5 separate regions of the Homo sapiens genome follow, and all the other regions are reported to be linked to region 2. The links are microRNA targets in miRTarBase. Many come from high-throughput screens and were not tested one by one. Region 2 holds a microRNA gene; each other region holds the end of a gene's coding sequence.

Region 1 (6,275 bases), not on the chromosome of region 2:
CTTGGCAAGTGTTCCCCCCCATGCCCACTTGCCGGGTCTATGGCACAGTGGCACACCAAGATGGGCACCTGCTGGTGTTGGGGGGTTGTGGCCGGGCTGGACTGCCCCTGGACACTGCTGAGACACTGGACATGGCCTCGCACACATGGCTGGCACTGGCACCCCTGCCCACTGCCCGGGCTGGTGCAGCTGCGGTAGTTCTGGGCAAGCAGGTGCTAGTGGTGGGTGGTGTGGATGAGGTCCAGAGCCCGGTAGCTGCTGTAGAGGCCTTCCTGATGGATGAGGGCCGCTGGGAGCGTCGGGCCACCCTCCCTCAAGCAGCCATGGGGGTTGCAACTGTGGAGAGAGGTGAGTGGCCTCCCAAGGAAGGCACTTCAGGTACCCTAACACCTTTTATTATTTCCTGACTTAGTCCCTTACCCTCAGAGACTGAACAAGAGCTGTAATTTTTACATGGGTGCCCAGGATGTGGCCTTGTCCCCTGTATCCTTTCCAACCTAGATTTGAGCTGCTGCCTTCTATTAACTGCCTTTTCTGGCTAAGGTGGGAGGCAGAGCCCAAGCCGATCCCAGGATGATGGGAGACCCCAGCCATGTTCCTGCCCCACTCCTCATTTCTAAGAGATGGGGGTGGGATGGCCTAATGACTCCCAGGGTTATAAATAGTCTGGGGTGGGGGAGAGGAGTAGGGCCTTGGCTCAGAGCCTGTGCTTAGACTTCCTGCCCCACCCCCAACCCTTCCCACACGCCAGGGAGCCTGATATGGACAAAGGCCAAGCTGATCTGGGATGGTTGCCATGGAAGCCCCCAGCTGACTGGCCCATTACCCTAAGGCCCCCAGACATGTCGTAGCTGACTCTGAGGGTTTAACAGAGGGCAAGAACCTACTATAATGAAAGAGTGTCACACAGAGGTGCTGGCAGGGATCCTGGGGCAGAAGGCTTGTGGACAGTATCTTTACCCAGCAGACCCAAGCCATTCCTCTCCCAGCCCCATCTCCAACTCCAGCTGGTCCCCAGTCCTCCTCCCCAGACTGAGCTCTGTGCTAAGCAGATCCCCATGTTTCTTACCCCTGGCTTAAGCCATCCCCCCATCTTCCTCCCCGAGGGGAGTCCCCACCTTGTGGCCTCCAGGTCTGACCACCAGCCCAGGCCAGCCCTGCTTGGATGCCAGACTCTGTTGCCATAGCATCTCCAGGGAGACAGAGTCGGATTATAATTAGATCGGCTGCCTCCTGCTCTTTACTCGGAGGGGCCCTGGCCAGAGTAGGAATCCCAGATCTCCCAGCCCCCACTGCAGGCAGGTAGTAGAGTGTCTGTTGCTGGGGAGGGATGCTATAAACACATGGGTCTCCAGCCACCCCCAGGACTTACCAGGGCAGCTGTCAGGGTGGGGTACCCTGGCAGGCTGAGGTACAATCTGAACTACTCTTTTCTATGCAGATGGTATGGTGTATGCTCTGGGGGGAATGGGCCCTGACACGGCCCCCCAGGCCCAGGTACGTGTGTATGAGCCCCGTCGGGACTGCTGGCTTTCGCTACCCTCCATGCCCACACCCTGCTATGGGGCCTCCACCTTCCTGCACGGGAACAAGATCTATGTCCTGGGTAAGGGCCTGGGGAATGTGGGAAGGGGGCTCAGAGTCTAGAAATCCTCATCCTCATAGGTTGGCTGGGATAGGGATCAGGCTCAGTCCAGGATGGCAAAACAAGAGAAGCTTTGTTGGGGTGATCCATGCCTGCTCTGAGGCTCTGACCCCTGGTGGTCTTGCTGTGGTTGGAAAACCAAACCCCAGTACCTGAGGGACTGTAGGGTGGATGATTCATGTGCAAGTGTGCACACAGCAGGATGTGGGAGGCTGAGGCAGGCAGATTAGCAACCTAGTGAGCAAGGAGCCCACCAAGCCTCCTGGGCTCCTTCCCAGGTACCCCAATTCCATTGACAGGGGGCCGCCAGGGCAAGCTCCCGGTGACTGCTTTTGAAGCCTTTGATCTGGAGGCCCGTACATGGACCCGGCATCCAAGCCTACCCAGCCGTCGGGCCTTTGCTGGCTGCGCCATGGCTGAAGGCAGCGTCTTTAGCCTGGGTGGCCTGCAGCAGCCTGGGCCCCACAACTTCTACTCTCGCCCACACTTTGTCAACACTGTGGAGATGTTTGACCTGGAGCATGGTGAGCAGTGGCTGTTCTGGGCTGTCCTCCCGCTCTCTGTGGGATGGAGGGGCATAGTGTGTACATGACTAGATCTGACCTCCCCTCTCCTGCAGGGTCCTGGACCAAATTGCCCCGCAGCCTGCGCATGAGGGATAAGAGGGCAGACTTTGTGGTTGGGTCCCTTGGGGGCCACATTGTGGCCATTGGGGGCCTTGGTAAGTCTCTATGGGGCTGGGGAGAGGAGGGAGTCCCAAGACAGGAAAGACTAGCCCCCAGCATGTGTGTCACCTTCTGCCCATCTCCAGGCACTCCAGGGGTCAGGGCTTTGTGAGCTCTTTTCCCTATCTATGAAGTAGGCAGGATGTGGTCTGCCTGGCCCAGCACTCAGGGTGTTCCTCAGTGACTGGGGGCTCTGTCAAGCACCAGCAAGGGTCTACGAGACAGCAGCAGGACAAATGACCACTGTATGCACAGTCAAGAGAACATATAGAAACATAAATGAATGAACAAATGATGAACATAGGCAATGAGGAGCAAGGCCCTGATAGCTCATCCTGGGGTGATAACTACTGGGCTATTCTCTGGGCTTAGGGAGCAGAAGGGCCTGGAGTCCCTACGGCCTGTGCCTCTCACAGCCTTCTCTCTCCTTCTTGCAGGAAACCAGCCATGTCCTTTGGGCTCTGTGGAGAGCTTTAGCCTTGCACGGCGGCGCTGGGAGGCATTGCCTGCCATGCCCACTGCCCGCTGCTCCTGCTCTAGTCTGCAGGCTGGGCCCCGGCTGTTTGTTATTGGGGGTGTGGCCCAGGGCCCCAGTCAAGCCGTGGAGGCACTGTGTCTGCGTGATGGGGTCTGAAGGCTTGGTGGGAGCTGTCCACTGGAGCAGCTCATTGCCAGAGGCAGCTATTTCTATGGCTCCTTTTGCTGCTGAGGACACTCACTGTGGCTCTGTGGGATGAGAGAGGCATGGGGGTGAGCACTTGAAACACTGCCTTGGGGCCTTGGGTTAGGGGAGCCTTTGTCTTTAGTGCAGGACACACATATGCTTACACCTACCTTTATCACCATTCGTTCATGAATCATGCCTAGCTCCATCCTTGCCCTGGGACCTACTAGGCCTTCCATCCAACTGGGAAATGGGGAGAAGCAAAGCTGGCCTCATGCTCTTCAGGGTCAGTTCCTATCTGGAGTTGACCAGGCCTACCCCAGTTGCCATTCCTGAAAAATCTCAGCTGCCAGGCTGCCTTTAGGGTCCCTGCAGACCCAGGAGAGTTGAGAGGGTGGGGGACACAGAGAGAATAGAGAGGATGTGGGAACTGCCAGAGGGCCGGAGCGCAGGAGTTCAAGTGGAGGAATGCTGGCTTTGAGCCCTCTACACTGCTGGTTGTATGACCTTGGACAAGTCACTTCACCTCTCTGTGCCTCAGCATCCTCATCTATAAATGGGGATCTCTGAAACCTTCCTACCCTACCTACCTCACAGGGCTGTTGTGAGGACCCAGGGAGTTTGGATGTGGAAGTAAAAGTGCTGCTAAAACCTAGTGTGTGGACCCTGGTGTGAACTCCCTTGTTTCCACTGCCCCTGCCTTCCTTTGGGGGTCTCAATGCCCCTAGGGATGAGGGTCCAGAAGGAGCCTCTTGGATCTGGTCGGTGTTCCCAAAGTGATTTGGTGTTTCTGTTCCATCTGAGCCTCAGCTTATTCTTTGGCAACATGTGATGACAGCGCCTCCTTACTGTCCTGGGGATTAGAGAGCACTAGGGCAGTAAGGAAGGGCTGTCACATGTCACCAAAGGATGGCAGGATAAGATGACCAGAGAAGTGCTCAGAAAACAACAGAATACCACAAGGTTAGGAAGACCTCCAGATCCAAGTTACAGAGTGTCTCCTTAGGGTCTCTGCTCACCCCCACAGGGAGGGGTGGTGCAGTGGGTTCTGTGGCCCAGGGCAGTCTCTTTCTGTCTCAGCTGTGGGGCAGCCGTCTCTTGGACAGGACTGTGTGGCCACCCAACAAACCCCTCAAAGGCAGCTGCCTCCTGAGAAAGCTGCCAACTCTTCCTTCTTCCAGCCTTTGTCGCCCACTAGTACTGGTCTCTGGGGTCTGCTTTCCCCATAGCTAAACTGAGTACTTGACCTGCTTCCCCAGTGATGCCTTTCATTCTAGGGTGAAGCACCTAGAAAGTCAGTGGCCCACAGGATATTTGCACATTGTCTGGCACGCTGGCAGAGGAAACCAACACAGAGATGTCTCTGGGGGAATGGGCTGTTTCCCAGAGGAGAAAGGTTGTGGGGAAGTTAGTCACTCCGCTGCCTTCATAAGGAGCCCTCCCTCAGTGTCACCCCCTTCACCCTGCCACCTGCTCTGTCCTGACTTCAACTTAGGCTGGGGACTGCCCTCTAATCTTCCTCTCTACAGCTGGGTTTACTGCAAGAACAGAGTAGTACTTGGGGCCCTGGAACCCACCTGATGTGGCTATAGCAATCCTCCTGGACTCTTAGCCTCCTGCAGGCCTTACCCTTTCTCACTTAGTGGCAGGGATCCCAGAGCAGCACCTCCCATGCCCAGCACAGAAACACACCATGGGCACAAGTGCCATGGGAGACAGGCACAGGACCTGGCAGCCTACTACTACCTTTCAGCCTCTTGGGCTACATCCCATTGTGGGCTGCAAGCACAGACAGGCTGCTGTGTCAGCTGTCCTTGTTTAATGCTCTGGACCAGTTTAGACACTCAGAGACCCCAGCATGAAGGTAGTGCTGCAGCAGCTTGGGTCTTGGGATCCCTGGGAGGTCAGGCAGTACGTCAGTGACCGGCGCCTGGGGCCCTACCTTGTAGCTGCCATAGTGGCCACCCTGGGATGGGCAGCAGAAGTTCTGCTGGTAGGTGGTCCTGGTATGGGAAGGCTGGACCTGCACAAAGTGGATGAGGTGCTGGGGGAGGCCACTGAGTCCTGGGCCTGGCCTGAAATCAGCCTGGTAAGAAGATTCCAGGGGCCCCTGCTGGCGCAACTCTATCTCACAGGGTGCCCAGCGCAGGAAGGTGTGCCGCTGCCACAGGCGCTCCAGGTCCTTCCGCCTTCCGATTCCCTGCAGCAGGCAATAGGGACCCTCCTCAACGGTATGGGCCCTTGGCCCACATTCCTGGCACCAAGCACCTTCTTGGGCCCCTCCTAACCCCAAGTCTGCTTGGTGATACCTGTCCTATGCCTGGCTGTCTTGGCCTGTACCCTGGCCTCCTTGGCCTGCCTCCCCAGTGATGTCTTTCATTCTAAGGTGAAGCACCCAGAAAGTTAGTGGCCCACAGGATACTTGCATATTGTCTGGCAAGTTGGCAGAGGAAACCAACATAGAGATGTCTCTGTTTGGGGGAATAGGCTGTTTCCCAGAGGAGAAAGTTTGTGGGGGAAGACAGCCACTCCTCTGCCTTCATAAGGAGCCCTCCCTCAGTGTCATCCCCTCCACCCTACCATCTGCTCTGTCCAGACTTCAGCTTAGGCTGGGGGACTGCCTGCCATTCTTCCTGTCTTCGGCACTCACTTTGTCAAAGGAAGTACGGTTGTCGTGCTTGGAGAAGAAGTGTCGCTGCGCCGGCTCCTTGAAAGACAGTGAGAAAGAAGGTGAATGGGGAAAATGATGCTTATTTACCCACCCTTACCTGGATCACTGCCTCAGGGTCCTTAATGGAGGGAAGTCACCAGGAGCCACTGCCCCTAAGCTGCTAAACTGCCAACAGACAGAGGGCAGAGACTAATTAAAGCAACACTTCAGTCCTGGGATATCTCAACCTGGGACTTGCCCTGAAGCAGAAGCCCGTGGAACCCTTATTGAGGAGGGTCCTCAATAAGGAGGCATCTGCTAGAACATCCTCCCATCAGGGGAGCAGTGGCCAAGTTTCAAGTTGGGCCTTAACTCTTGATTGCCCAGGACTCTAGTCCTCTCCTCCCCTGCATCCACACTTACTCCCCCATCAACATACCCAGCCTCTTGGCTCTAAATGCCATCTGAAAACTGGAATTTCTATCTCCAGCTCAAACTTTCTCCTGAACTTTGGGTTCAGTAGACAACTGCCTACTCCACATCTCCATGTAAATGCCTAATTGAGCATCTCCAAACATATGACTGAGCTTT
Region 2 (4,000 bases):
AGGCAAGCGGATCACCTGAGGTCAGGAGTTCGAGACCAGCCTGACCAACATGGTGAAACCCTGTCTCTGCTGAAAATACAAAATTAGCTGGACGTGGTGGCTCACGCCTGTAATCCTAGCACTTTGGGATGCCAAGGCAGGTGGATCACCTGAGGTCAGGAGTTCAAGACCAACATGGTGAGACCCGTCCCTACTAAAAATACAAAATTAGCCGGGCGTGGTGGCGCATGCCTATAGTTTCAGCTACTCAGGAGGCTGAGGCAGGAGAATTGCTTAAACCCAGGAAGCGGAGGTTGCAGTGAGCCAGGATCCTGCCATTGCATTCCCGCCTGGGCAACAAGAGCAAAACTCTGTCTCAAAAAAAGTTTATGAACCTTGCACTGCAGAGGCTGCGAGATGTTTGGGAGAAAACCTTTTCTTCGAGATCTGTGGCATACCCAGAAAGTTGACTGTGCGCTCCTGTGCGTGTGTGAACATCCATTCTAAAATTGCCTTGTTTACTTGGCAGTTGTCTCATAAGAGCAGAGTGCGGGGGAAAAGCACTCCAATTGTCTCAGCTTTCTGCTGGTTTAGATTCTGGGTAAACGTTCACTTTACTCTTAATCAACATGAGCAGGTTTTGCCCAACATTTCTTCATGTGTTGAAAAGTCTGTGCAGCTTCTCCCTTCCATGAAATAGCTCTTAGCTTGACCAGGTTCACCCTCCACATTTAAGAGAGTTTAAATACTGCAGCTCCAAAATGACTCCGCGGACAGCGGCTGGAATGAGACTTGCTGCTGTCTCAATGAAAGGGCTCTTCCTCTGTCCGCTGTTAGATTTAGGTTTTTCTCTCTGCTGGGTGAACAGTGGGAGAATGCCTCAGAGACTTCTCCAGCCCCACATGGGGAGGAGGCCTTGGCAGGTTCCCTCTGTTCCTCCCTTCTGAAGTATCCCTGAATGGTCACTCTTGAACCTGTTACTGCTGCTGCTGCTTGGGGGCACAACAGCCAAGAAGTTTTCTAAAACTGAGTAAAATCCGTTTATCCTTCTTGCTGACTGGAGTGCCAGGTGTTGTGACTCATAGCAGTGCCTGGTTGGGGAGGGTCAGCAGGCTGTGCATATCTGACTTCCCATAGGCCCAGTATGTGTCCGCCGCAGGAAAGAGGGGCCTCAGCTGCAAGGGAGAAAGCAGTTCTTGATGCCTGTAGATCGGGGCCCAGTGAGGAAAGCTCCAGGGAGAAAGGCCGCTGGGCTTCAGCCTTGGAGTTTGTGTCTGCCTATTTCTGTTGGATACATTTGAGCTGTTTATGTAACCACGTGTGTTCGTCTGCACAGGTCCTCCCCAGATACACCTGTGATCGGTGTTAATTCTGGCTTGAAAGAGCCCTTCAGAATGGGAAGTGTGGAAAGGTGCTAGGTTCTGATGGGTGGCATTGATTACATCCTGTCACTTAACCTCCTCCCTGGAAAAGAGAGGAGCAGTGGTGCTGTGGCAGTGGCAGAGGTCGCTACAGCCCTGTGATCTTTCCAGGAAAGAGACGGCTTTGGAGGCCTGGCAGCAGCCAGAGGAAGAGGTCGTGGCCGTGGCGACTGGAGCGTGGGAGCCCCTGGTGGCGTCCAGGAGATAACATACACGGTGCCAGCCGATAAGTGTGGCCTCGTCATAGGCAAAGGTAAGAGGCAGCTGGGGTTTCACATCCCCCCTCAGCTGTTTGGCTTGAGGGAAGGCAGGTCACGGGACCTCCAGAACCTTTGGTGAGGTCCCTTTGCTGCTGCAGGCTGGGGCTGCCCGGTCTGGAGGCAGTAGCCACCTTCTGCCGAAACCCTGCTTGGCATGGTTCTCTGAGGCTGCTGACGGGCCTGTTGTGAGGAGCAAAGTGTATTATTTCTGGTGAGTATGAAGAGACAGCAGTAAAACTCCCTGCCTGTTGAGGGCAGCTTAGCTTGGTGAAAAGATACCTTGCGCAAGATGGGGGGCATTTGTCAATCGACTGATTGGTAATTAACTCACCTCCAAGGAACTTAGAGGGACGGTTGAGACAGTATCCTCAGTGAAAATTCCTTCTCGACAGTGTGTCACTTGTTTCCCTTACCAGGTTTGAGTATTTGGTCTTGATCCGCGTAACATGTGAAAATGGTTTTTATCCTTTCTGCATATTTACCGTGAGTCACGGACTCTCTGTGGAGGGAAATAAACATTGATGTGTTAGTTTTTTCTGGGCATTTTGGAGAACATTAGGAAGAAACCCTCATTCATGGCTACTGTAGCTCCTTCCTGTCCTTCACTGAGAACCAGGAGAGAGCAGCCACATTTCTCAGCCATTGGCAGCAGTTCATCTTGGCTAGCCCTGGGACCCAGAAAGGCTACTGAGACCAGGGCCGAGGCTGTGGGGCCTTCCCAGTGTAGCAGCAGGGCTCGGCTTCCGTGGGGCTCTGAGCCAGGCCTCGCTGCCAGCGGGGGACTCCCGTTGTCACTGGGTTTCGTATTTGCCTTCATTAGGTATTTGACAGCATGTGGAGAAAACAGTCGTCTCTCCAGAGTTTCTCAAATTTCTTTGATCACCAAATACCCCTTAGCTGCTTGAGGGGCGCTCGTATTGGATAGGCAGGACTTGGGGATGCTTCACCAGCAGAGACCTCCAGAGCTGGGCAGGTGGGAGCCCCCCGACACTCACCTCCCAGGAGCTGCCCTCGTCCCTGCTCACAGACACTGTGGGCTTATGCTCTTGCAAAATGCAAGAAACCGTGTTGTCTTTTAGACTGAACCACTCAGAGTTGGTATGGGTTCGTGTTCATTTGCCGGCAGGTGTGCGGGCTGGTGAGTGTTTGGGGATATTGCAGGCTGCACCAGATGCTGCCAGAAGTCCCACACTACCCAGGCCGTCAGCCTGACCGCTGTGAGACTGCAGCTAGTTGATGCCTGTAGGTTGACGATTAGCTAGATCTAGATTTCTTGGCCTTTTGCAAACTATTTTGTCGGCGAAGTTTTCATTTGCTTGTGTCTCTAAACCCTGACTGAGCATTGTTGCCTCACCATGACAGGTTCTCATAGTGAGCCCTTGGTGCTCACAGAGCAGCCCCTCGTAGTTGGTCCTCCACAAAGTCATCCTGAGTGATTCCTAGAAAACAGTGATGAGAACGAAGCAGTAACTGGTCTGTGTCCCATGCTTGAATAGCAGCCTAAAGAAGCCTAATTAGTGTCTCGGATATGGGAGGGTCTTTCTATGTCACACACACACCGCACTAAACACACGCACGCACGCACGCACGCGCACACACACACACACACACACACCCCCTACCCCTCAGGGCCCATGTGAGACATCTCTTTTCCTTGAGATGGGCGCCTGGGCAAGGGAGAGAGGAGCCCCACGCAGCCAGGCCCATCTTTCCTTGGCCTCTGGCCTGGACAGACACAGAGCCTCCCTGGCCCCTGCTGGATTTCCATGATAAACACAGCAACATTGACAGATAGCTCAGCCAGCCTGCTCTTGTCAGCCAGGCCTTTTAGCAGGTTTGATTAATTGCTTTACGATTTCACGTCCAGCCAGGGGGCCACTGGTGGGGCACTTCTGCCCCCCATCAGGTAGAAGAATGGAGCGGGCTGCTGAATGAGTCTATAGACAGCCACCATGTGCCAAGCTAGTGACCTCATTTTGAAGGAAGATGAACTTAAATTAACTCCTTCTGGCCCCACGAGGTTTTGTGGCGCCTCCTCACCTTATTAGCATGTTCCCAAGGCCTGGGGATGAGGGGCCCAGTGGGGAGGGCCGGGGCCTCGGCTGTCTGGGGACTGCAGGATTCTCAGTCGCAGACACTCGTGTACTTGTGCTTTTGCCTCCAGACCAAGTGGATCTGGTTGGAGGCTGGTAGGGTTCCCTCGAGTCTTACGTGTGCCTGTGGAAATGGTCTCCATTTTGGTTTCTATTCTTTTTTATTTTTTTTTATTTTTTTGAGATGGAGTTTCGCTTTTGTTGCCCAGGCTGGAGTGCAGTGGCGTGATCATGGCTCACTGCAACC
Region 3 (6,358 bases), not on the chromosome of region 2:
CAGGCTGTCTGGGCAGACAGAGCTGCCAGACTCTCGTCCCTCCCTTTGATGGGCCTGTTATCAGGGTTGTTTTGCTCCTGGAGCTGATCACAGGCCACGTTTCCCAGCCAGCCACCCCCATCAGCCCAGAGCCCCCTGGGACACAGGCAGACGTAGGCAGTCAGTTTGGAGAGACTGCAATTCAGGAAAGGGATAGGCTGAAATTTCTTGGGCCAAGAAATTGGCCCAGGACTGACCTTGGCTAAGCCCCCACTGATGACAGACGGATTTTTTTTAAAGATTATTTTCTTTAGACATTCTTGCTCTGTCGCCCAGGCTGGAGTGAAGTGGTGTGATCTTGACTCACTGCAATCTCTGCTTCCTAGGTTCAAGCAATTCTTGTACCTCAGCCTCCCGAGTAGCTGGGATTACAGGCACGCACCCCTATGCCTGGCTTATTTTTGTATTTTTAGTAGAGACAGGGTTTCACTATGTTCATCAGGCTGGTCTCGAACTCCTGACCTAAAGTGATCCGCCTACCCTGGCCTCCCAAAATGCTGGGATTACAGGTCTGAGCGACTACACCTAGCCTGATGACTATTTTGTTGTTGTTGTTGTTTGTTTTTTTGAGACGGAGTCTCACTCTGTTGCCAGGCTGAAGTGCAGTGGTGCAATCTGGGCTCACGGCAACCTCCGCCTCCCAGGTTCAAGCTATTCTCCTATCTCAGCCTCCCAAGTTGCTGGGACTACAGGCATGTGCCACCATGCCTAATTTTTGTATTTTTAGTAGAGACGGGGTTTCACCATGTTTGCTAGGATGGTCTTGATCTCTTGACCTCGTGATCCGCGCACCTCGGCCTCCCAAAGTCAGACTGTTTTAAGAGTAATTTGTAAAAGGAAGCTGGAAGTTTGGGGTGAATGGGTGGTTACACAAATGCTGTGTGATTTAGGGTGCAGTTTACAAAAGAGTGGCTGCGTCCTAGGCTGCAAATTCTGAGGTGTGGGCAAGTGGGGACCTTGGCCACCCCTGCACAGGGAGATCTGGCCCAAAGGCAGACCAGGGTCATGAGGCTAGGCCCTTCTTAAGAGGGTGGAGGGCTTTTGGAGGTGCTGAGGGCATGAGGTCAGAGTGGTGCCTGCTGCTGGCCTTCAAGCATGCAGGGTCCCTGTTTGGTGGTGGGCCTCATGAAGGAGTCACACCAAGGTGGGTGCTTAGGGTTCCCTCAAGCACCCATTCTGTCCCTCTGCATGCAGGGGACCACACCTAGGGCAGGAACTGAGAGCTGACGAGTGTTGTGTTCCCGGCGTTGCTCCTTCAGCTGGGATGGAGCCCTTGGCGGGATAAAAGGCTAAACTGGGTCCAGGTGAGATCACCACAAGGTCTCACCCAGGGCAATGAAGGGCTCACAAGCAGCACATCCCTGCTCACAGTTCGCACTCAGACTCACCCGTCTGTCGATGGTGCTGCCATCACTGCTGAACGTTTGTTCTCCGTCTTTCTCATGCTTTTGCCAAGCAGAAGGCTGAGTTCACCTAACCTGGACGCAGGCAACGAGATGCACTGCGTGCCCCCCTTCCCCTTGTGCAGCTGTGGTGTGAACGCATACCCTCCCTTGCTTGCCCTTCCTGCCTGGTTGCCAGCTCTGCTCTTGCTGTTCCCTGTGCCCACGGCACTCTCTTGCTTATTCTGTCAAGCCTGACCTACCCTCAGAGGCCCACCTTGGCCATCCACAAGGCTCCTTCTGAGAACTGAGCCCTTTCCCTGAGTTCCCAAAGCACGTTGTGTGAAGCTCTAAACTTTCTCCAGGCTGAACTTAGCTTACTCGTGGCTGTTCACATCCTCAGGGCCCACGCAGCAAATGCTCTGTAAGGGCTTGTTAAACTCCACTCTCCTGGGACTCCTAGTCCCCCACCAGAGTCCACCATGACTACCTCCTGCAAGAGCACTGAGCTCTTGGGTGCCAGGCCCAGCTCAGGATTTTCACAGACACCAACTCGTTTAAGTTGCATAACCCCGGGAGGAAGGGGTTGTTACCTGATGAGCAAACAAATCAGAGAAGTTCAATGACTTGTCCAAGGTTACAGAGGCTTGGAGCTCTGGATTCAAACCCAAGTCACTGTGACTCAAGACCAGTGTTTTTCCCCGTTACAAGCAGACACAAAAGAATAACAATCCTTTATCATTTATACTGTATTCTCACGTTACATTATTTCATTTGATCCTCACAACAGCCCTGTGAGGTAGGTAGGGTTATGTATTACTGTTATGCCTATTTCACAGATGAAGAAATGGAGGTGGCTCAGTGAGGTGAGTGACTTGCATAAAGTCACACAGCATGTTAGTGGCTTCACTGCTTCTGCAACTTCTCTAAAGTCAAGCTGCTTGGATTAGGGAGCACCGAAAAGATGGACAGTTTTATGGAAAAGGAGAAAGGGCAGTGGTGATTTGTAAGATTTCTTCCTCAAATTGTTTTGTTATGACCACAGCTTCTGCTACTTGGTCTAAACTAGGTTCTCCATGAGGGGCTCTCCCAAGTACCCTTGGCCTGGGACAGCTGTCTTTTTTTGGGATGGAGTCTCTCTGCAATGGCACACTCTCAGCTCACTGCAACCTCTGCTATCTGGGTTCAAGCGATTCTACTGCCTCAGCCTCCCAAATAGCTGGGGTTATAGGCGCCTGTCACCACACCCAGCTAATTTTTGTATTTTTAGCAGAGACGACGTTTCACCATGTTGGCCAGGCTGGTCTTGAACTCCTGACCTCAAGTGATCTTCCCGCCTCGGCCTCCCAGAGTGTTGGGATTACAGGCATGAGCCACTGTGCCTGGCAGAAAAGCTGTCAGAGAGACTCCTGGGTCCCACCGTAGGGGGAAAAGGGCCTTTACTGCTCAAGGGAACTGGCGCTGCCCATGGCCCAGTGTACAAGCTCCCTACTCACAGGGCCTATCTATGGGAAGCCCCTTTCTGGGCCCACCTCCCATGGGTGCCTGTGTCACCAGGCTTCCTTGGCTTTGAGGACCCCTGCCCAGTGGGGGAGGACCCTGGGGACTCTCAAGGCCAAACTCACTTTAGGGATGAATCATGACGTGCAGTTTGGAGGCCTGCATGGCTCATCACCCGGTGGGAAGCAGTGCTTGGGTTGCTTGCCCTGGATGGCACCCTACAGAGACCCAGGGGTGGGACACAGGACTGCAGGGGAAGGCCGCCTTCCTGAGGGCAGGGTCTTAGGGGCCGCACATTTACTCTAAGGGCACTGTTACGGTTCATACCACTCCTGGGCTCCTTGCTGCACAGCACCCTTGGAGACCGTCTCTTTCCTCTGGATCTCCTCAGGGGCCGTGAATCTTCCTCTTCCAGCAGAAAATGGTCGAAAGGTATATGGAGCCACAGATGGTGGGGAAGGTGGGTGAAGTGGGGGTCACAAACGAGGTGAAGCTACAACAAAAGGGGACTGACTTACAGGGGATAGAAAAGAGCTAACTTTGATTCTGAAGACAGATCCCAGAGGGGAATCTGAATTCTGAGTAATGATGTTTTCAGAAAAATGTCTGGTCTCTCAAGGTGACTATTTTGAAAGCAAAGATATATAACTGGGTGAATGGGAAGGTCTGCAACCAAGATCCAGCAAGTGGCAGGACAGATTTTGGCTCAATATAGGGAAGAACTGTCTAACAGTCAGCACTGTCCAACCACAGCAGGAGCTGCCTTGGGGATGGCGCGCTTCCTATCAGCCAAGGTATGCAAGCAGGCCAAGGTGATCACTTGCAGGTACCCAGGGAGAGGCGCTCATCTTCAGATGTGCTGGGGTGTTCTAGGGGTGGGGGAGGACTAAGCAATCATCGAATTATTTCCAACCCTGAGAATCCGTAATAGATTTGTTTAAAATGACCTGTTTCAATGATACCTCAAATTTTTGGGAAAACAATGACAAAAGTCAGGTAACAGGCTGGATTTGGAAGTGATTTCATTACACTGGCTACAGATACTTGCACATTTTTGCAAAGATAGCAGACCCTTTCTAAAGCCAGGAATCCCTTGATTCAGCCCTATCAAGAGGGACATTCCTACCTTCTGAACTCTGCCTGGACACTCATTCCTCTAGACCCTGCCACACCTCATCTCTGACCCCCAAGAGGGGACACTAACAGAGCTCTGAGAATGCACAGCATTCCAAGCCAGCCAAACATGGTCACCCCTGGGCAAACATCCACGATCATGGATGCACCCTGGGGAGGGAGGAGCAGGTGTGACAGGAACCGCTGGGGACTTTATGTCCTGGTTAACTGGAGGTAGCCTCTTGTTCTCATCCCATCCTCTCCACCAGGGCCTTCTTACAGATGGATAAATGCGGCACTGGCTAGCGGTACAGAGAGATGGAGCCCAGGAGAAAACTGCTGCTCTTTTGTCCTGGCTGGAAAATCCTCCTATGGCCTCCTTTAGTACACATCAGCTGACTCTTCACTTGTCATAATAAACCGCCTGTCTGCAGCTCAAAATGGCAAGAAAAAAGGTGGTTCTGTTCAGAGGACACTGGATTCCAAAAGGTGGACTTCATCATGGGGGGAATCAAGTCCTGCTACACAATTAATACAGATTAGTATAGTCCCCTGCCTCGCACCACTGGCGAGATGCCCTCCAAGACCTGGCTGACATGAGCTTCCTGGGACTCCCCATCTCCAGTGTTGTTGGGGTCCTTTTACCTGTACCGTATTAATCGAATAATCTTATTGTTCATAAAATCCAGAGCATGTGGGTGAGAAGAATCGATGCAGAAGCCATCGCTCAGAGCGATTTTCAGTACCTCTTCCACGAAGACCTGGAAGCTGTTGATCTGCTTGTTGGCGGGCACCACCCAGAGCCTCTTGAGGTTCTGCTTGGTGTACTCCTCCTCTGGCAGGCCCTCCACATTGGCCACCCAGTCCAGAGTCAGGTGGTTGGGGTCCTGCAAGTGGCTGGTGATGGAGGAGAGATTGCCATTGGAGCAGTAGAAGAGCTTAGAGCCAAGGAGCTTGAGGAAGAGGCAGGAGGTGCTGAAGATGTTGGCGTTGAAGACCTCCATGCTGGAAGAGGAGAGGCTGTAGATCTGGGGTGCCTCGCGCACAGTGAAGTGGACCGTCTGCACACGCTGGTTCAGTGTGATGTTGAGCATGGCATTCTTCTCGGCCTTGGAGAGCTCCACTTCCTTCTCCTGCAGGGCCTCAATCAGGGGCTGCACCTGGTAGAAGTCGGCCTCCCTGCGGAGCAGCCCCATCTCCTGGAAGTCCTCAGGCAGGTCAAGGTGGGAGGTCCGCAGGAAGTTGAGGATATAGCGGAACACTTTGCCGTCACGGTCAATGAAGCAGTTGCCCTGGCTGTCCCTCTTGGTGGGCATCTTCCCGCTGAACATGGCGCCTAGCATGGAGTCAGGGAAGCTGGTCAGGGTCGCCAGTGAGGTTGTATAGAGCTTCCCCCCGACGTTCAGCGTGATGGGGTCGGACATGGCAGGAGACTGGGTTGCTGGAAGTAGTCCTGGAGAGGGTGAGAAGTGAGAAATGACTATAACCAAACCTTATCAGAGAACTCACAGTCCTTAACTCCTTATTGTACATCAAGCCTATGCCCTTGGGATCGAAATGAATTAATACCTGATGAATGGGTGATAATTGCTAACACTGTGCAAAGTACATTAGCTTCACTAGGGAGAGGGAAAGGAGAAAGGGAAAAGGAAAGGAAAAAGGAAACAGGGAAAGAAAGGGAAGGACCCCTAAAGCCTGGGTCCCCCGCGCCCCCCTCTGCTGCCGACATTCTATTTTAATTGGTCTGGAATACTGCCCCAGCCCTGGTATTTTGAAAGAGTTCCCTTAGTGATTCTAAATGTTCAGTTAGAATAGAGAACCACTGGTCTAAAGAAAGAAAGGAAAACGTGCCTGGACTGAAAGCTATGCTACGTGTTTATACATATATTTGCTTACATAATAGTTGTATCAGCCAGGTGCGGTGGCTCACACCTGTAATCCCAGCACTTAGGGAGGCCGAGGCGGGCAGATCACCTGAGATCAGGAGTTCAAGATCAGACTGGCCAACATGGTGAAACCCCATCTCTACTAAAAATACAAAAATTAGCTGGGCATGGTGGTGGGTGCCTGTAATCCCAGCTGTTCAGGAGGCTGGGGCAGGAGAATCATTTGAACTCAGGAGGTGGAGGTTGCAGTGAGCCGGGACTGAACAACTGCACTCCAGCCTGGACAACAAGAGTGAAACTCTGTCTCAAAAAAAAAAAAAAAAAAAAGGTTGTATCATCTTTTGACACAGACAATATAATCATCCATTCCTGTTGTGCAGATGAGGAAAACTGTGCCAGGATTCATTCCTCAAGCTCAGAAAGGTGAAGTGCCTTGCC
Region 4 (4,000 bases), not on the chromosome of region 2:
CTGGATGTGAGGGATTGAACCATGCACACTTGCAAGCAAGATGAAGGGCAAACAGATGACATCAAATCAAAATTAACCCCACAAAGAATCCAGAAGACCTCAGATGGTAAAGGACAGAGGTCTACGTCTACTGCTGTTAGTGCTCAGGTATCCATCCTGTTTTCCCTAATCTCCTGATTCTGATCCAAGAGTCTTTGAGACCTATGTCCTAGGCCATCCTTTCATCTAGAAATGGAAACCATGGCTGTGGCACCAGGCATGGTCAACCCTGCAGTGATTCAGCTGCACAAAGGGGTAGTCCAGAGCTTAGATAGCTGTCTGATGTGGCTAGGACACAACTGTCATTTTATGGAATAAGTTAAAACAACACATTAGTATCACAGCAAACAAGAAACTGAGATCACTTATATATCTATGTAATAGTTAAACTGTCTATAAGTATTTTTCTCCAGAAACTGAAAATACCATAGACATAATTTTATTAATCCTCACAACACATCTGTGAGGTAGTATGGGGTGAGGTCAATATGAAAGCATCACCCCCATTTTAGAAATGAAGACACAGACGTGCAGGGAGGGCAGGAGGTTTCACTGGGGCCACAGGAAAAGAAAACAAAGTTGAATCCCGCTCTTTCATCATCTGCAGTCGATGGCCGAGAAGAGGCGGCTTGCCTCCCTCCTGCTCTGACATTCTCTCTAAAGTGTTATGACTAGACCTATCCATGGATAGGATGTGGTTGTTTAGACCCACTGGAGCCATTTCCTTTAGGCAGACCTGGACAGGTGCTCTCCCTGAGGTCAAAGACGTCAATTTTCGGCATATATTTCAGATGTGTGTGTGTGTGTTATAAGTAACATTTGTAGAATATAGTTGCTAAAATCTTCTGCCCAATTCAAAAGCAGAAAAGATACATTTGGCAAAATAAGGTTCAACCCTTAAATATTTTATTCTCACATAAGATAAGAAGTGTTAGAATTGTTATGGGAAGCTGTCACCTTGCTGAATATATCTGCTCTAGGCCCACATCTCTCTCTTTGCCATGCACATTTGGAAGCCAATAAGAGCAACAGACCCATTATGTGCCCTTGCACAATAGCAGCCTTTCGGTAAGAAAAAAAAAATGCCTGCTTGAGTTCACGGTTTATAGAAGGCGATGGTTCCTGGGAAGAGGCTGATCCCTTGCCCCAGGATTTACGGCAGAGGCAGCATTCAGAAGTGCACCTCTCCAAAGGTGTTTCACAAACATTGTGTCAAAATGTTTTTGGCCGATGGAGAAAGAAACATATGGAATGTTCTGTTTTTATCTGCTTTTCCTTTGCCAAACTGAAAGCCCTGTGATGGGGGTGGGGAAAGAGAGACAGTTACTCAAGCCAAGCACGGCCAGAAGGGGCGCCCTTGGTCATTTGCTGCCCTTTTTTTCTGAGAAGGTCCACTTTTTTAGTTGTTGTTTTCAATATTCAGAGATATGACGATTCCAGTAAGCCCCCTCCTCATTACCCACTCTGGTTGTAAAATACTTCTGGGGCTTGCTCATTCTCCGTCCACACTTAGAGAGTTTAGGAATAATTTTTTTCAGAATTACTCCAGTGTGTGGGTTGGCAGGTTGTAGAAAGTGGCACTGCCCCTACTGTCTCTGAGACCAGAGGGGTTTTCAGTGCTTTGCCGGGCCACAGCCAGAGACAGGATGAGCCGGGGTCAAGTTTCTGTAAACTAAACAGTCATGGCAGCAAGGTCCAACTTTAGAAACAAAAGTTCATTTTCAGGTTCTTTATGACACTGTAGGACAATACAACACATTTTGAAGTCGGACCCAATGTTTGTTTTCTACTATATGAAATCAGGACATAAGATGCTGCTTGCTAATATCAGCTGTTACAAGAAGACAGAGTTGTCGCCATGAAATAAAGCTCTCTAGGAAGCACACAGAAATAAAAAGGTCACCATGCATACCAAGAACAACCCATCAGCCAATAAACTAAACACTTTGGAAATAAAAACTTAACACATCATTTCATTTTGTTAAAAATAAAACGTATCACTAATCTGTGAGTGTCTTGTTCTGTCACAGTGGGCATTGTGATAAATCAGGGTTTCTCAATCTCGGCACTACTGATATTTTGGGGTGGATGATTCTTTGCTGTTGTAGGTTGTGCTGTGCATGGTAGAATGTTTGGCAGCATTCCTGGCTTCTAGTAGCACCCCCAAGTCATGACAATGAAAACTGTCACCAGACATTTTTGAATGTCCCTGGGGTGGAGTCAGGGGGCAAAATCACCTCCTGGTTGAGAATGATTGCAATACACAGATACCTACAAAGAGGAACAATTCTTTCTCAAAATTTATTGTGCAGAATTTTAAGACTATACCCAGGGTTGCTCATTTATTAAAGCAAAGACTTAGTAAGGTAAGTGTGTGGGAAGAATAAATGGATTAATCATAGTCTGTTTCCTATGAAAATGCCTCGTTGAGTAATTGCAGATAGACTAGTGCCTCTTTTTTGTTTTGTTTTGTTTTTAAACATTTTACAGCCATTATCCAACAGACAGTAAAGCAGTGGACCAGTTGCTGTGTGGGTATAAAGCAAACGGTCTCTGGGCTCCTCCAAGCTGTGGATATCTCTGGCCATTATCAATAGCTGATTCTCACTTGTCCTAATGAAGTACTCAGTGCAGGTTAGCCTCCTTCTCCCCCGCCAGCTTCTCTTCCACTTCCCCACACCGTACATGCCTCTCCCTTTCTCTCTATAACTCAGCTCATCTCATAGCCTTTTTCTTTGGAAATGCAACTCTGCTGATCACTTGTGGGCTGGGATCCCAGCTGCCTTTTGAACAGAGCAGACATCCTTTACAGAGACAGGTGGCCTGGAGGGGAGAACAGGTAGGGGCACACTGAGATCCCACAGCAACCTGAGAGATTCTGCCCCGTGACCTGCTGGCCCCCTCCAGGGCACTTCCTATTTTCATCTTTCATTAATTAGGCAGCTAAGAAGCTGCTTTCCAGCTTGTAGAGCCAAGCAGGCAGCATCCTGTCAGAAACAACCAGATAAATAGAGATTAAAAAGGAATCTGAGAAAACCCTGCTCTCTCCCATGCAGGGTGAAATCCTCGTAGAGCTCATTTCCTTTCCCCTCATTAATACTTAATGTAATTTCCTAAATAGAAGTTTAAGAAATAACACAAATGAAATGTTCCCCTGAAAGTAACCCCTAACAAAACAACCCAAATCCTCCTCCTCGGTCCTTCTCAAAGTGGGTCCTGCAGTGGGGAAAGAAGCCTTCACCATGGTGGTCTGGCCTGGCTGGTGCAAGGCTGGCCCACTTCAGCTGCAAATCAGCCTCCACTCACCTTTAAAGAATGGTTCTTCTTGTACCAGAAAGGGGAAGTTGTAGCAGCCAGAGGAGAGGGAGGAAAACAAAAACAACCATACCAACAAAACAGGGCTTAAGATTGTCGTTCAATGCGCATCAGGTACTTATTAATTCTACTGGATAAGCACTTATAAATAAAGAACAGTTAATCCTCATCCCAGGCCATATTCCATTGTTAGGAGTCATCGTACAGAGGGTTGTTGTAGTTTCCCCAGGACCCGTAGTCATGGTCGTCCAAAAGTCTTCCATAGGAGGAATGCCTGGTGGAGAAACAGAAGAGGGTTGTGATTACTTGGAAAAGTTGCCCATCTGAGGACAGCGTAATGCCCTGCACTGAACTGGGGATGCTTATGGGGCCAGGGAGAGGGAAAGTTGTGACGCTCTCACTAGGACAGCAGACCCACCCACCGTGGAGGCCCCGGTCTACCAAACACCCTGTCAATGACAACTCTTCCTGCTAGGATCCTGACTGGCATGTTCTGTTGGCATCATCTGAGTCCTTGTTGTCTTCTGGATCCCAAGTGCTGGGGAAGGAAGAGGAGGCCCCATTTCCATAGTAATTTAATAAGAAGAGATGGGAAAGGGAAGCTTGCATTCCTAACATTCTGACTTAGGTTCTGGGCTTAATTTTC
Region 5 (4,720 bases), not on the chromosome of region 2:
TTCCCTCTCACCCTCTCCCCTCCCGCTTACTTTGCTGTCATTTCTACCCCTTTAGCGACCGGTCCTGTACCGTCCTCAATGTAGAAGGTGACGCTCTGGGGGCAGGACTCCTCCAAAATTACGTGGACCGTACGGAGTCGAGAAGCACAGAGCCTGAGTTGATACAAGTGAAGAGTGAGCTGCCCCTGGATCCGCTGCCAGTCCCCACTGAGGAAGGAAACCCCCTCCTCAAACACTATCGGGGGCCCGCAGGGGATGCCACGGTCGCCTCTGAGAAGGAATCAGTCATGTAAACCCCGGGAGGGACCTTCCCTGCCCTGCTGGGGGTGCTCTTTGGACACTGGATTATGAGGAATGGATAAATGGATGAGCTAGGGCTCTGGGGGTCTGCCTGCACACTCTGGGGAGCCAGGGGCCCCAGCACCCTCCAGGACAGGAGATCTGGGATGCCTGGCTGCTGGAGTACATGTGTTCACAAGGGTTACTCCTCAAAACCCCCAGTTCTCACTCATGTCCCCAACTCAAGGCTAGAAAACAGCAAGATGGAGAAATAATGTTCTGCTGCGTCCCCACCGTGACCTGCCTGGCCTCCCCTGTCTCAGGGAGCAGGTCACAGGTCACCATGGGGAATTCTAGCCCCCACTGGGGGGATGTTACAACACCATGCTGGTTATTTTGGCGGCTGTAGTTGTGGGGGGATGTGTGTGTGCACGTGTGTGTGTGTGTGTGTGTGTGTGTGTGTGTGTGTGTTCTGTGACCTCCTGTCCCCATGGTACGTCCCACCCTGTCCCCAGATCCCCTATTCCCTCCACAATAACAGAAACACTCCCAGGGACTCTGGGGAGAGGCTGAGGACAAATACCTGCTGTCACTCCAGAGGACATTTTTTTTAGCAATAAAATTGAGTGTCAACTATTTAATCAGGTGTTCTTGAGAATTTGACTTAAAGCACTGGCCACTGCAATGACAGTATCTGCTCATCAAGAAACACCACTGGGCTGGGCATGGGGGCTCACACCTGTAATCCCAGCACTTTGAGATCACTCCAGGCCAGGAGTTCAAGACAAGCCTGGGCAACATAGTGAGACATCGTCTCTACAAAAAAATACAAAAATTAAGGCCGAGCACGGTGGCTCACACCTGTAATCCCAGCACTTTGGGAGGCCGAGGCGGGCGAATCACGAGGTCAGGAGTTCAAGATCAGCCTGGCCAACATGGTGAAACCCTGTCTCTACTAAAAATATAAAAATTAGCCAGACATGGTGGTGGGCGCCTGTAGTCCCAGCTACTCAGGAGGCTGAGGTAGGAGAATTGCTTGAACCCGGGAGGCAGAGGTTGCAGTGAGCCGAGATCGCACCACTGCACTCTAGCCCGGGTGAAAGAGCAAAACTCTGTCTCAAAAACAACACAAAAAATTAGGCAGGTGCAGTGGTGCACACCTGCAGTCCCAGCTACTCAGAAGTCTGCGGTGGGGAGGATTCCTTGAGCCCAGGAGTTTAAGGATGCAGTGACCCATGATCATGCCACTGCACTCCAGCCTGGGCAACAGAGTGAGACCCTGTCGCTTTTTTTTTTTTTTTTTTTTGAAACGGAGTCTGGCTCTGTTGTCTGGGCTGGAGTGCAGTGCAGTGGCACGATCTTGGCTCACTGCAACCTCCGCCTCCCAGGTTCAAGCGATTCTCCTGCCTCAGCCTCCGAAGTAGCTGGGACTACAGGTATCTGCCACCATGCCCAGCTAATTTTTGTATTTTTAGTAGAGACCGGTGCCTCAAGTGATCCACCCACCTTGGCCTCCCAAAGTGCTGGTATTACAGGCGTGAGCCACCACGCCCAGCCAGACCCTGTCTCTTAAACACCACGGGAAACCACAATGAGACACCACTATACACAGTAGAATGGCTGAATACAAGACCAAGGGAGGATGGGATACAACAGGACTCCTCATCTCTTGGTTGGTGCTCCCTTAGTAGATGGCTGAGTTGTTTTGGAAAATAACTGGGCAGTTTCTTAATAAAGTTAAAAAATACAGGCTGGGTGCAGTGGCTCACGCCTGTAATCCCAACACTTTGGGAGGCCGAGGTGGATGGATCACCTGAGGTCAGGAGTTCGAGACCAGCCTGGCCAACATGGTGAAACCCCGTCTCCACTAAAAATACAAAAATTAGCCGGGCGTGGTGGCACATGCCTGTAGTCCCAGCTACTTGGGAGGCTGAGGCAGGAGAATCGCTTGAACCCAGGAGGCAGAATGTTGCAGTGAGCCAAGATCTCACCATTGCACTCCAGTCTGGGTGACAAAAGCAAAACTCTGTCTCAAAAAAAAAAAAAAATATATATATATATAATATATATTTATTTACTATGCAGCTTAGGAGTTGCACTCCTGGGTATTTACCCAAGAGAAGTGAAAACTTTTGCTTTTACAAAAATGTGTCCACAAACGTTTAGCTGCTGTACTCATCATTGCCAAAATTTGGGAACAAATCAATTGGATACACTGGTACATTCATACAATGGAAGATTACTCAGCAATAAATAAGAGCGATATCGACCTACACTGCAACAGAAATGCATTTCAGATAATTTGTTGAGATAAAGAAGCCAGAGACGGTAAATACTGTATAGTTCCATTTAGAGGAGGGCTAGAACATGCTCAACTGGCCTATGGTGGGAAATCAGAACAGTGGTGACCTTTGAGAATGAATATGGGGCCAGGCACGGTGGCTTCATGCCTGTAATCCTAGCACTTTGGGAGGCCGAGGTGGGCGGATCATGAGGTCAGGAGATCGAGACCATCCTGGCTAATATGGTGAAACCCCATCTCTACTAAAAATACAAAAAATTAGCAGGGCATGGTGGCGGGCGCCTGTAATCCTAGCTACTCTGGAGGCTGAGGCAGGAGAATGTGGTGAACCCAGGGGGCGGAGCTTGCAGTGAGCCGAGATTGTGCCACTGCACTCCAGCCTGGGTGACAGAGCAAGACTCCATCTCAAAAGAAAAAAAAAATAGCATATTGATCAGAAGGGAGCACAAAAGAACCTTCTATGATAAAGCAAATATCTTACCTTGATTTGGGTGATGATTCCACAGATGGATGCATTTGGGAAAGTTAACGAACCTGTACACAAATCACATGCATTTTGCCCTGTGTGCCTTCCAGTTAAATTTTTTCTACAATCTGGGTGTGGTGGTTGGTACGTATCTGGAGTTTCCACTACTCAAGAGGCTGAGGCGGCGAGAGAATCACTTGAGCTCAAGGGTTCAAGGCTGCAGTGAGCTATGATTATGTGACTGCACTCCAGCCTGAGCAACAGATTGAGACCCTATCTCTTAAAAAAATCTGCACAAGGAGAATCGCTTGAACCCAAGAAGTGGAGGTTGCAGTGAGCCAAGATTGCGCCACTGCACTCGAACCTGGGCAACAGAGCAAGACTCTCTCAAGAGCAACAACAACAAAAATCTGCACAACGCATGGTAACAATTTATTTTCCTTTGTGACCACCTACTTAGGAATGCAGCATCCCTTCATATCCCAACTCTCACTATCCAAATTGTCCCAAGAATTATTTTATTTCCTTGAAACCCCAAAATAGCTATTTGGATAAAAACCCACTCTGCAACTGTTTTACATCCTGTGTAAGTTCAGAATATGGACTATGCTGGCCGGGCGCGGTGGCTCACACCTATAATCCGAGCACTTTGGGAGACTGAGGCGGGTAGGTCACCTGAGGTCAGGGGTTCGAGACCAGCCTGACCCATATGGGGAAACCTCATCTCTACTAAAAATACAAAAATTAGCTGGGTGTGGTGGTGGGCACCTGTAATCCTAGCTACTTGGGAGGCTGAGGCAGGAGAATCGCTTGAACCCGGGAGGCAGAGGTTGCAGTGACTGGAAATCATGCCACTGCACTCCAGCCTGGGCGATAGAGTGAGACTCTGTCTCACCGCCCCCCCCCCAGAAAAAAGTACTATGCTGCTGTTGTATCTCACCTGTTCTTTTGAGACAGGGTCTCTGTTGCTCAAGCTGAGTGCAGTGGTGCTATCATGGCTTACTGCAGCCTCAACTTCCCGGACCTTAGCAGTTTTCCTGCCTCAGCATCCTGAGTGGCTGGAACTACAGGTGCACACCACCACACCCAACTAAATATTATTATTATTATTATCATTATTTTGAGACGGAGTTTTGCTCTTGTCACCCAGGCTGGAGTGCAATGGCGCGATCTTGGCTCACCGCAACCTCTGCCTCCCGGGTTCAAGTGATTCTCCTGCCTCACCCTCCTGAGTAGCTGGAATTACAGGCATGAGCCACCATGCCAGGCTAATTTTGTATTTTTAGTAGACACAGGATTTCTCCATGTTGGTCAGGCTGGCCTCAAACTCCCGACCTCAGGTGATCTGCCTGCTTTGGCCTCCCAAAGTGCTGGGATTACAGGCATGAGCCACCACGCCCGGCCGCTAATTTTTATTTGTAGAGACGGGGTCTCACTATGTTGCCCAGACTGGTCTCAAACTCCTGGACTCAAGTGATCCTCCCACTTTGGCTTCCCAAAGTGCTAGAATTACAGGTCTGAGCCACTGCACCCAGCCCTACTTCTCACCTGTTCTAACAGGATTCTGTTTTGTGCGTTGAATGTGTTAGCCATTGTTGATATTATCTTCCGCTTCCAAACCCCCTGTGTTGACTTTGGCCAGGTGCCTGGAGGCACCACTGACCTGGGTCCAA

The links. Region 2 holds the annotated microRNA hsa-miR-6856-3p (UACAGCCCUGUGAUCUUUCCAG, at 1,490-1,511, shown strand). A microRNA usually pairs through its seed, bases 2 to 8, with sites in the 3' UTR of a target mRNA and lowers its output. Matches are read on the target gene's strand: a 7mer-m8 pairs with bases 2 to 8, a 7mer-A1 pairs with bases 2 to 7 and ends in A, and an 8mer does both.
Region 1: miRTarBase lists KLHDC8B as a target of hsa-miR-6856-3p. Seed matches in the 3' UTR shown: 7mer-m8 at 3,631-3,637.
Region 3: miRTarBase lists KCTD21 as a target of hsa-miR-6856-3p. Seed matches in the 3' UTR shown: 7mer-m8 at 2,208-2,214.
Region 4: the mRNA of PARM1 is a reported target of hsa-miR-6856-3p. Seed matches in the 3' UTR shown: 7mer-A1 at 2,525-2,531.
Region 5: the mRNA of SLC1A5 is a reported target of hsa-miR-6856-3p. Seed matches in the 3' UTR shown: 7mer-A1 at 681-687.

Annotation. Positions count from the first base shown.
Region 1 is chr3:49,172,798-49,179,072 of GRCh38, forward strand. It overlaps KLHDC8B (kelch domain containing 8B), which reads left to right. Exons shown (of 6, transcript NM_173546.3): 2 at 1-348; 3 at 1,442-1,606; 4 at 1,945-2,169; 5 at 2,265-2,366; 6 at 2,808-3,689. The coding sequence ends at 3,004. CIMIP7 (ciliary microtubule inner protein 7) reads right to left here. Exons shown (of 4, transcript NM_001080528.3): 3 at 5,685-5,741; 4 at 4,837-5,255. The coding sequence ends at 4,839. Among named protein-coding and RNA genes, the nearest start is that of KLHDC8B, 4.3 kb to the left of the region's middle.
Region 2 is chr9:130,624,853-130,628,852 of GRCh38, forward strand. MIR6856 (microRNA 6856) reads left to right here and starts at 1,445; the gene lies at 1,445-1,511. It overlaps FUBP3 (far upstream element binding protein 3), which reads left to right. Exons shown (of 19, transcript NM_003934.2): 12 at 1,512-1,653.
Region 3 is chr11:78,169,097-78,175,454 of GRCh38, forward strand. It overlaps KCTD21 (potassium channel tetramerization domain containing 21), which reads right to left. Exons shown (of 2, transcript NM_001029859.3): 2 at 2,153-5,487. The coding sequence starts at 5,458. The coding sequence ends at 4,676. KCTD21-AS1 (KCTD21 antisense RNA 1) reads left to right here. Exons shown (of 3, transcript NR_102281.1): 3 at 4,724-4,881. Among named protein-coding and RNA genes, the nearest start is that of KCTD21, 16 kb to the right of the region's middle. RefSeq lists an enhancer at 4,743-5,244.
Region 4 is chr4:75,045,791-75,049,790 of GRCh38, reverse strand. PARM1 (prostate androgen-regulated mucin-like protein 1) reads right to left here. Exons shown (of 4, transcript NM_015393.4): 4 at 1-3,628. The coding sequence ends at 3,544. All of the region lies in intron 1 of LOC107986289 (a long non-coding RNA gene), which reads left to right. Among named protein-coding and RNA genes, the nearest start is that of LINC02562, 37 kb to the left of the region's middle.
Region 5 is chr19:46,771,083-46,775,802 of GRCh38, reverse strand. SLC1A5 (solute carrier family 1 member 5) reads left to right here. Exons shown (of 8, transcript NM_005628.3): 8 at 56-920. The coding sequence ends at 293. Among named protein-coding and RNA genes, the nearest start is that of SLC1A5, 15 kb to the left of the region's middle.